Regions from separate parts of the Homo sapiens genome. Here region 1 is linked to region 2. The links come from fine-mapping of genetic effects on gene expression. A gene starts in region 2. The other region holds a variant in brackets. All regions are shown on one strand. Distances are between the middles of the regions.

Region 1 (5,000 bases), 29 kb before region 2:
CTGCTGCATCCCACACCTTTTGCTTTCTTGCCCTCTTCACTTATTTTTGGTGGAGCACATCCTCCAGTAGTTTTATCAAAAAGGATAAATGAGGCTGAGCACGATGGCTCACACCTGTAATCCCAGCACTTTGGGAGGCTGAGGCAGGTGGATCACCTCAGGTCAGGAGTTCAAGACCCGCCTGACCAATATGGTGAAACCCCAGCTCTACTAAAAATACAAAAATTAACCGGTGTGATGGTGGATGCCTGTAATCCCAGCTACTCAGGAGGCCAAGGCAGGAGAATCGCTTGAACCCAGGAGAAGGAGGTTGCAGTGAGCCAAGATTGCACCATTGCACTCCAGTCTGGGCGACAAGAGCAAAACTCCATCTCAAAAAAAAAAAAAAAAACGATGAACAGGGGTAAAGTTTTGGGGACAGGATATGTTGGCAAATGTCCTTACTCTATACCCTCATAACATCTGGGTTGGATATAGCATTCCTGTTTGAAAACCATTTTCCTTCAGCATCACAGAGGCCTTCCTCTGTTGTCTTCCAGGTTGGCCGATGATAAGTCCAAAGTCGTTCATGGTTCCTTCTGGGTTGGTTGTTCCTCTCTGGAAAGTTGTAAGATCCTATCTTTGTCCCAGGTGATCTGAAACCTCCCAGAGTTGTGCTTTATTGAGGGTGTGTTTTCATCTGTTGTATTGGGCACTCAGTGGCCATCTGGAAACTCATGTCCTTTAGTTCTGGAATTTTCTTTGGTTTTATTGTTTTTTTATGGCCTTCTCTCACACTATTGGACCTCCTGTCCCGCTCTTGTTTTATCTGTTATCTCAACCTTTTTGTCTCTTTGTCTCTTACCGATACTTTCTAGAAGATTTCCTTAACTTTATCAACAGCTCTTTTCATTTTGTTATAATATTTTACTCTGATGTTCTCTGAGTGTTCCATTTTTCTTTTTTTGAAGCGCACTCTTGTTTGGCTTCACAATTGCAGTATTTTCCCTTGATGACAGCGTTCATCATACTGTTAGTTTTCTAACTTCTTGCACCACTTCTATTTCCTACAAGTTTGCTTTTGGTGTCTGTCATTCATCTGAGAGCTTTGCTCCAATGTTCGAGTTGACTGGACTCTGAGCACACAGGTGACCACTCTGTGCTCCCTGGCAGAGCAGTGTGCTTTGCTTTGGCATTTTAATGGAGAGTTTCTTTTCTTTTCTTTTCTCCTTTTTTTTTTTTTTCTGAGATGGGTTCTCACTCTGTCACCCAGGCTGGAGTTCAGTGGTGTGATCACAGCTCACTGCAGCCTCAGCCTCTCCAGAGTCGGGTGATCCTCTCGCCTCAGCCTCCTGAGGAGCTGGGACCACAGGTGCACACCACCACACCCAACCAATGTTCTTATTTTTTGTAGAGATAGGATCTATGTTACCCACGCTTCTCTCAAATTCCCGACCTCAAGTGATCCACCCACCTCAGCCTTCTAAAGTGCTGGGATTACAGGTGTGAGCCACTGCACGTGGCCTAGGGCTCTTCATTTCTGAAATAACATTCCACCAATCATCCTCATTTTAGCCTCCATGTTTAGAAGAACCCAGACCAACAATGTCTGAGACTTTTAGGAACTCAAGTGTGAATTGGGCTTATTTTCTGCTTTTCCTACTGCCGGCTATTTGGCTTTCTTGGATCTGGGATGTCAGATACCACTCAGCCACCTTCAAACTCTCCAAAATATTTTTAGTCCTTTTTCTTCTTCTCTTCTCCCTGCCTTCAATAGAAATCCCGCTGCTATTATTTTAGGGAGCTTTGGGGAAGGAAAAAAGTTAGATGCCGGAATTCAGTCTGTTATCTAAACCTGGGAGTCCCCCAAGCCAACCCTTCTGTCTCCTTCCAGTTCTCCAACCTCCGAGAAGATAAGAAACACCAAGAGATGATGGGGCTCATTGAAAAGGACAACCAGCTCCTCCGACAGGTGACAGCCTGGGTGTCGTTAAATGATCAGCCAGGCCACTGTTCTTACTGTAAGTCCCAACACAGCAAAGGGCAAGACGGGGCTGGAGCGTCTTCACAGCTGAGCCAGGACCCCTTCGGTAGCATGCCACTCGACAGATCTCTGCACCCCACGTCCACACAGAAGGCTCCTCGCAATTGCTGGGTCCAGACTGGACTGGAGGGACCCAGCAAGCGTTCCCAGTCCTTTTTTTTTTTTTTTTTTTTTTGAGACAGAGTCCTGCTCCGTCACCAGGCTGGAGTGCAGTGGTGTGATCTCAGCTCACTGCAACCTCCGCCTCCTGG[G/A]TTCAAGTGATTCTCCTGCCTCAGTCTCCCGAGTAGCTGGGACTACCAGCACTTGCCATCATGCCCAGCTAATTTTTGTATTTTTAGTAGAGACAGGGTTTCACCATGTTGGTCAGGCTGGTCTCAATCTCTTAACCTCGTGATCCGCCCACCGCAGCTTCCCAAAGTGCTGGGATTACAGGCGTGAGCCACTGCACCTGGCCGCCGGCCATCTTTTAGGAAAAAGTGGATGGGTGCCACACATACTCAGGTTGGGCGAAATGACCCCACCTCTTTTTTCTCCCCGGCTGTCCCCAGCAAGTGTCGGAACTGGAGAGAAAGCTCACCAAGCGGGACTGTGTCATCTCAGAGTTGGACACCAAGGTCAGCCAGCTGCAGGAGCAGGTGGAACTGGACCAGAACCACCTGCAGAGGTGGAAGCAGCTGCAGGAGGATTTGCAGAGCAAGAAGGAGATGATTCAGCAGGCAGAGCAGCACACCCGCGTGGCCCTGGAGAGCTCCCAGTCCAGGGTATGCCCAGCCCTTCCTCCTGAGGGTCTGTCCCAGCAGCTGGCGGCCGAGCACCCAGGCCTCTGCCCACCGCCCACCGAGGTAGAACCGGGGTCTGTGTACGCTGGGGCTCGGGCTGGTTCTGCCGTGTACACCAGCATCCACACAGAGTTGACACTCAAGAAATGTGGGTAGAGGACGGAGTGAGAGTGCAACAGAGTAGCCCGGAAATGTTCGTCAATGGCAGTGGTGGGCGGAGCCCCATGGGCAGGGCTGCGGGTCTTGGGTTGCATTGTGAAGGGGTTGGATCACTGGCTGGAAAGGAGGAGGGCACCTGGATAGGGAGGCATGGTGTTGCCCCCCTCATCTCTGAGTCATAGCGTGCTTGCTGGACCAGGCACCATTCTAAGTACCTTCTTGGTATCAAAGTCATGTAGCTCCTTTAACCAGACTGCGAAGTAGTTATCATGATCCTCACTTAGTAGACAAATAGGAAAGGATGAACAGTCCCCCTGGACAGCAGACCTGCTTTGCGGTGGTGCTGGGATTTGGCAGTCTCAACTGCAGGGCTCCACTGGGGTGTCATATGAAACGTGAGCAAGGCCAGAGTGTGCCCTGCTTGTGAGGGCCCCATGCCAAAAAGGAAATCAATAAAGAGCTGACCTTTTTTTTTTTTTTTTTTTTTTCTGAGACAGGGTCTTTCTCTGTCATCCAGTCTGGAGTGCAGTGGGGTGATAACAGCTCACTGCAGCCTTGGCCTCCCAGGCTCAAGCTGTCGTCATCCCACCTCAGCCTCCTGAGTAGCTGGGACCACAGGCATGTGCCACCATACCTGGCCAATTTTAAAAGCTTTTTGTAGAGACGGTCTCACTATGCTGTCCAGGCTGGTCTTGAACTCCTGGGCTCCAGCAATCTGCCTGCCTTGGCCTCCCGAAGTGTTGGGAATACAGGTGTGAGCTACCGTGCCTGGCCCTGACCTTGATTTAGAATCCAAAATTAAGCAAAGGTCAAGGTCATGTATGGAGGCTTTTGAAGTCAGGTTCCCACCAGAAATGCCAACTGCAACTCAACTGCGTCCTCTTTCCTGCTTGAGTCCACCTCCTTCCGGCTGGGTCAGACTGAGGCACCCACCCCTGGTATCCCTTGATAAAACAGTTTGGGATCCAGCCGTAGTCCTGGTGAAAGCGTTAGACCAGAGGCGGTCTAGGTGTGTCCATTTGTGCGCCAGCCTGCACTGACCTGGTGGAGCCTGGAAAGCTGAGCTGAGAAATATTGTGAAGCTAAGTCCGGGTGAGCAGGAACTAGCGCCAAGCCTGATGGTGAGGCCCCACGGGTGTGGGGAAGTGAGGCTGGACACCCCGGGTAGCTGCCAACCTCTACCCTGGGGAGGGACCCCCAGTACAGAGGCCCAGCCCCTTGTGACCTCACGACCTCCAGCACCTGGCACGGTGTTTGTACAAAGTTGGGCGCTCAATAAATACTGGAAAGAAGGAAAGGATTCCACTCCTCACACAGGCCAGGGGCCCATGACATTCCTGCTGTCACTTAAACCTGTCCGAGCGGCAGTGTGGACATGCTTCCACTCGGAGGCAAGGCTGAGCCTCTCGGGCCCAGCTCCTGTGGGGCACCTCTGCGTCGTCAGGGTTTCTGGACGAGGAACTCGTGCTGAGCGTGCCGCATAACTCAAGGGGTTCCTGTCTGAGGCTCCTGGGGTGCAGATTGGAGGGGTTTCCTCTGCAGCTTCCTGGGAGGCACGATTAGCTACCTCTGGGGAGGCGGCTGCGGGTGTACAGGCAGACAAGGATCTTCATGGCAGCAGAAGACGAGAACGCCTTCTGGGTCTGTGCGCGGGGGCCAGGTTCAACGCTGCTGTCCATGGCACAGACACCTCCTAGTCAGCATGGAAAGGAGGAAGCACCAGCAGCGCACTGTTAAATGCCTAAAGTGAGAGTGTCCCCAAGGGCCAGGAAGTCCGCTCACTGCAGCTCCCCTGGGCAGTGGAGGATGGTCCAGGGGTTACGTGCGGCTTCTGTACTATTTTGGTTTGTTGGTTTAAAAATATATATATATGTGTGTGTAGGTTTTACTTTCCAATTAGAAAAGCCCACCTGGTGTAGGAGAGTCTTTGGGCTTTGGGGCTGGGCCGCACAGGGTCAGGGGTTGGATCCGGCACCTCCTAGCTCTCAGACAATCCACATTGACTTCTCTGACACCTGTTTCCAGTTTCTAAAGCCATG
Region 2 (5,516 bases):
AACAGCACTAGCAGCACTGTGGAACCTAAGACCGGCCTTCTGAGCTGTGTCTTTTCAGGGTTTTTGCATGTCTGATCAATGGCTCTACCTGAAACCAAAAAGAGCTCCCCGCAGCCCCAGCCAGAAGTGACTCAGTAAGCAGGACCGTTTCCCACACCCCTATGATTGCACCTCAACCAATCAGCAGCAAGCACCCGTTGCCTAGCCACCCTCCCCTTTCCCCAAACTATCCTTGAAAAACCCCGCCTCCAAATTTTTGGGGAAGCTGATTTAGTAATAAAACTCGGCCGGGCGCGGTGGCTCATGCCTGTAATCTCAGCACCTTGGAGGCCAAGACAGGCAGATCATGAGGTCAGGAGATCGAGACCATCCTGGCTAACACAGTGAAACTCCATCTCTACTAAAAATACGAAAAATTAGCTGGGTGTTGTGGCGGGCGCTTGTAGTCCCAGCTACTCGGGAGGCTGAGGCAGGAGAATGGCGTGAACCCGGGAGGCGGAGCTTGCAGTGAGCCAAGGTTGCACCACTGCACACCAGCCTGGGAGACAGAGCGAGACTCCATCTCAAACAACAATAATAATAACAGTAAAACTCCAGTCTCCACTTTAGCTGGCTCTACATGTGTAAAACTTTCTCTATTGCAACCCTCCTGCCCTGATAAATCAGCTCTATCCGGGTAGTGGATAAAATGAACCCATTGGGCAGTTACATCAGTAACCATGTGTCACTCTACAGTGGGTTTGTTTTTTTTGCCACAGGGTCTCGCTCTGTTCAGGCTGGTATCACAGCTCACTGCAACCTCCACTTCCTGGGCTCAAGTGATCCTCCCACCTCAGCCTCCCGAGTAGCTGGGACTACAGGCACGCGCCACCAGGCCCAGCTAATTTTTGTATTTTTGTAGAGATGGGGTTTCACCATGTTGGCCAGGCTGGTGGTGTGACCTCAAGCGATCTGCCCGCCTCAGCTTCCCAAAGTGCTGGGATTACAGGTGTGAGCCACCGCGCCCGGCCAGGGTTTGTCTATATATCCTTATATAGATATGTTACTTGTAAAATGAGTTGCAATGTCTTGAGGAATTGCTACAGCAAATAAATAGATAAGCTGCTAAAGTGTATACGTATTTTATTAAGAAATGTCCACATAGGCCAGGCGCGGTGGCTCACACCTGTAATCCTAGCACTTTGGAAGGCCGAGACAGGCGGATCACATGAGGTCAGGAGTTCGAGACCAGCCTGACCAACACAGTGAAACCCGTCTCTACTAAAAACACAAAAGTTAGCCGGGCGTGGTGGTGTGCGCCTGTAAGCCCAGCTACTCAGGAGGCTGAGGCAGAAGAACCGCTTGAACCCGGGAGGCGGAGGTTGAAGTGAGCCGAGATCGCGCCACTGCACTCCAGCCTGGGTGACAGGACCAGACTACATCTCAAAAAAAAAAAAAAAAAAAAGAAATGTCTGCATAAATTCAAAGACGAAAAATGGGGGAAGAAATGCAGGACTGCCTTAAGGATGAAACCAAAAGAGAAGATGGAGAGAACATCTGGCTGGGTTTAGGTCGTGGTTCTGCCATGTGGCTTCCCTACTTTCTTTTAGGCAACAGATTCAATGGGCACCTGTTATAGGCCAAGCATTATCGCGGGGCCTGGGGATCCAAGATTAATTAGTAAACAGACGCTGGACAATATAGTCTGGAGAAAAACCCAAGTTACCTGCTGCTTACTTTGGGCAGGCCCTTTGGCTTTCTGTAAAACAGGAATAACCACCCCTACCTTGGAAAGCTGCTATTAGGATGAAGTGAAATATAATCTTCAAGATCACAGCATGTGGCATTATGCAAAATCCAGGGTGCCCCCTTCACCACCAGACTCACTCTCAAGTCACTTCACAAGTACTAGATACAAAAAAGACAGGTCTCTACGCTCGATCTACAGGAGAAGCCAGGTTTGCTAACAATTACAAAATAGCGTACCACGTGTAAAAGTCCAGTTAACAGAATGCGGGGGAGTTCAGAGGCCACCTAGTATGTTGGTGTGGCCAGGAGAAGGGGGAGTTGGAAGGCGGCATCTGCTTCCCAGGGGTGATGCCCCCCGCAGCTGGCTCCTTTCAGCCTTGTAGGAATTCCCTGGGCCCAGTGCCCCAGGGGGCGTCACTAGGAACTGCTCGGCCCCGAGAGGGGTTCCTTCTCCAGGGCTACTCCAAGGCCCCATCCCGCCCCGCCCGGGCAGCCCCCGCTGACCTTGAGCGAGGCCAGGTGGGCGATGTCGGGGCTGAGTTCTCGGAGGCAGTTGTCAGCAGCCGCCAGTTCACTGAGCAGGGGCAGCGCGCCGGGGCGAAAGAGCTCGGCGGGAAAGGAGTCTAGGCAATTGCCGGTGAGGTTGAGGCTCTGCAGGCGCGGGGCGCAGCGCGCCAGGTCGGCTGGCAGCTCGCGCAGCCGGTTGCCGCTGAGGTTGAGGCTCTGCAGCTGCGGAAGGCCCGGCGGCTCGGCGGGGCCCAGGCCTTGGCCCGGCGGCAGCGCCTCCAGCGCGTTGCCCGACAGGTCGAGCACCCGAAGGGCAGGCAGCGGCCCGAGCTCGGGGCTCAGGCCGGGCCCCAGCGCGTTGCGCCGCAGCACGAGGCTGTGCAGCTGCGGCAGGCCCTGCGCCAGGCCAGGCCCCGGCGCGCGCAAGCTCCCGCAGCCGCTCACTTCCAAGTAGTGCAGCAGCGGCAGGGTGAAAAGCCGCGGCGGCAGCTGCCCACCCGCCGCCCGCACTCGCTCCTCCAGCCCGGGCCCCGTCAGCAGCAGCTCCCGCCGCCGCTCGCGCTCAGCCAGCTCCAGCTCCGGCCAAGACTCTGACACCGCTGCCGCCGCCATGGCGCCTCAGCTGCTGGCAGGCACCCACCCACCAGGGTGCTTCCGGGGCAGCGCGCGCCACTTCCGACCTGTGCCGGAAAAGCCCATAGAGAAGCCACCTGGCTGCTAGAGTGCCGCCGCGCGTGCCATAGAGGAGAGTGGCCTCTCCTGCGTAGAGCCGGGGAGGGGCTGGAGAGCGGCTCGCTCTCTCCGCGGGTAGGGGTGAGGGTGGGGGTTATGAACCCAAAAATATCTGAGACAGGACTCAATGAAATGTAAAAAGTTTATTTTGCCAAGGTTAAGGACACGCCAGTGTCACAACCCTAGGAGATCGTGACGATGGTGCCCAGGGAAGTTGGGATGCAGCTTGGTTTTGTACATTTTGGGGAGACGTGAGACATCAATCAACACGTGCGAGTGTACCTTGGTTCAGCCCAGAAAGGCTGGACAATTCCAGGAGAGGGCTTTCAGGTCACAGGTAGAGAAGAGACCGGAGGGTGCATTCTTTTGAGTCTTTGTTCAGCCTTTCGCTGACTGCACAATTTATTATGCATGTGAGACGCGGGTAGAGGAATAGTCGCTTATGCTTTAGTCTGGCTTACTGAATCTTCATTTCTACGTAAACAGTAGAGCAAAGGAAGCGATCAGATATGCATTTGTCTAGGTGAGCAGAGGGATGGCTTTGAGTTCAGTCCTTTGTCTCGCACCTGTGAAGGGAAGCTATCAATTTGCATTGCCAGGGTGAAATTCAACAGAACTGTTTTAGGGTAAAGATCTTGAGGCCCACAGAGAATTTCTTTGTGGGCAAATTGTGAGGGAGGTGTGTAGCTTTAAAAATATGTATTTGTAACTATCTTATTTAGGAATAAGACGGGAGGCCGATTTGCCCGAAGCAGTTCCCAGCTTGACTTTTTCCTTTGACTTAGTGATTGTGGGGTTTTGAGATTTATTTTCCTTTCACAGGGTGGGGTGCGGGCGGATGGAGGAGCCAGAGTCTGTGCTCTACTGTGCCCCGACCGGCTTGTTTTGGAATTCCTGCACTTTTGAGTGGTGTAAACCAAAACCAAAATTCTTTTTTTTTTCTTGAGACGGAGTCTCGCTCTGTCACCCAGGCTGGAGTGCAGTGATGCTATCTTGGTTCACTGCAACCTCCGCCTCCTGGGTTCAAGCAATTCTCCTGCCTCAGCCTCCCGCTGGAACTACAGGTGCATGCCACCGTGGCCGGTTAATTTTTATATTAACCGTGTTAATATAATTTTTATATTAACCGGTTTTCGCCATGTTGGCCAGGCTGGTCTCGAACACCTGACCTCAGGTGATCTGCTCGCCTCAGCCCCCCAAAGTGCTGGGCTCACAGGCACAAGCCACCGCACCCAGCCCCCAAATTCTTATTTATTTATTTATTTATTTATTGAGACAGAGTCTTGCTCTGTTACCCAGGCTGGAGTGCAGTGGTTCCAGCTCGGCTCATTGCAGCCTCAACTTCCCTGGCTCCAGTGATCCTCCCACCTCAGCCCCTGAGTAGCTGGTACCACAGGCATGTGCCACCACGCCTGGCTAATTTTTGTATTTTTTGTAGAGCTGGGGTTTTGCCATGTTGCCTAGGCTGGTCTCAAACCCATGAACTCAAGCAATCCACCTGCCTCAACCTCCCAAATTGCTAGGATTACAGGTGTGAGTCACCAAACCTGGCCAAAAAATAAAATTCTAGAGGCTGGGCACGGTGGCTCATGCCTGTAATCCCAGCACTTTGGAAGGCCGAGGCGGGCGGATCACCAGGTCAGGAGATCGAGACCATCCTGGTGAACACGGTGAAACCCCGTCTCTACTAAAAATACAAAAAAAATTAGCCGGGCTTGGTGGCAGGCGCCTGTAGTCCCAGCTACTCGGGAGGCTGAGGCAGGAGAATGGCAAGAACCCAGAGGGCGGAGCTTGCAGTGAGCGGAGATTGCGCCACTGCACTCCAGCCTGGGCGACAGAGTGAGACTCCGTCTCAAAATAAATAAATAAAAATAAAATAAAATTCTAAGCCCCCCAACCATCTGAGTGGACCCCTCCTCTGGGCCAAGGGCATTCCCTAGTTAATCTGAAAAACTAGTTCAGGCCATGATGGGAAGGGTCGGATGTGGAGGGGTAGGGGTTGGACATGCCTCATTATATTCTCCTCCCTTTGGGAATTCAGGCCCACCTGACCATCATTAATATCAACACAGACTTTAAGACTGACAAAGCCAGGCCAGGTGTGGTGGCTCATGGCTGTAATCCCAGCACTTTGAGAGGCCATGGCGGGTGGATCACTTGAGGTCAGGAGTTTGAGACCAGCCTGACCAACATGGTGAAAACCCATCCCTACTAAAAATACAAAAATTAGCTGGGCATGGTGGCGGGCGCCTGTAATCCAAGCTACTCGGGAGGCTGAGGCAGGAGAATTGCTTAAACCTAGGAGGCGGAGGTTGCAGTGAGCCAAGATTGCACCACTGCATTCCAGCCTGGGTGACAGAGCGAGACTCCATCTCAAAATAACAACAACAATAAAAGACTGACAAAGCTGACTCTTTGTAGCAATGATACCAAATTCTAGCCTGTTTCTAGTAGAGCATTATGTGACTGATCAAGGCCCTGAAGGAAATTGAAGTATTTTACCCCAAATTATATTTCCTTGCTGTATCTTAAAACAATCCTGCAAGGCT

Direction of the effects. Alleles are on the strand shown, and positions count from the first base shown. SD is a standard deviation of normalised expression in the study named.
For the expression in subcutaneous fat of the gene that starts at base 2,869 in region 2, G is the high allele of the variant in region 1 and A is the other (small effect, 0.38 SD a copy in FUSION).

What was found. PIP is the estimated chance that this variant, and not a neighbour inherited with it, causes the effect.
Region 1: its variant is the best candidate, but not a certain one, in a credible set for the expression of LRRC47 in subcutaneous fat (FUSION, PIP 0.51).

What each region holds. Positions count from the first base shown.
Region 1 is chr1:3,764,662-3,769,661 of GRCh38, forward strand. CCDC27 (coiled-coil domain containing 27) reads left to right here. Exons shown (of 12, transcript NM_152492.3): 9 at 1,874-1,951; 10 at 2,572-2,784. Among named protein-coding and RNA genes, the nearest start is that of SMIM1, 5.6 kb to the right of the region's middle. The variant G/A (reference allele first, on the strand shown) is at 2,275.
Region 2 is chr1:3,793,630-3,799,145 of GRCh38, forward strand. LRRC47 (leucine rich repeat containing 47) reads right to left here and starts at 2,869. Exons shown (of 7, transcript NM_020710.3): 1 at 2,233-2,869. The coding sequence starts at 2,847. RefSeq lists enhancers at 1-415, 2,756-3,050 and a silencer at 2,431-2,640.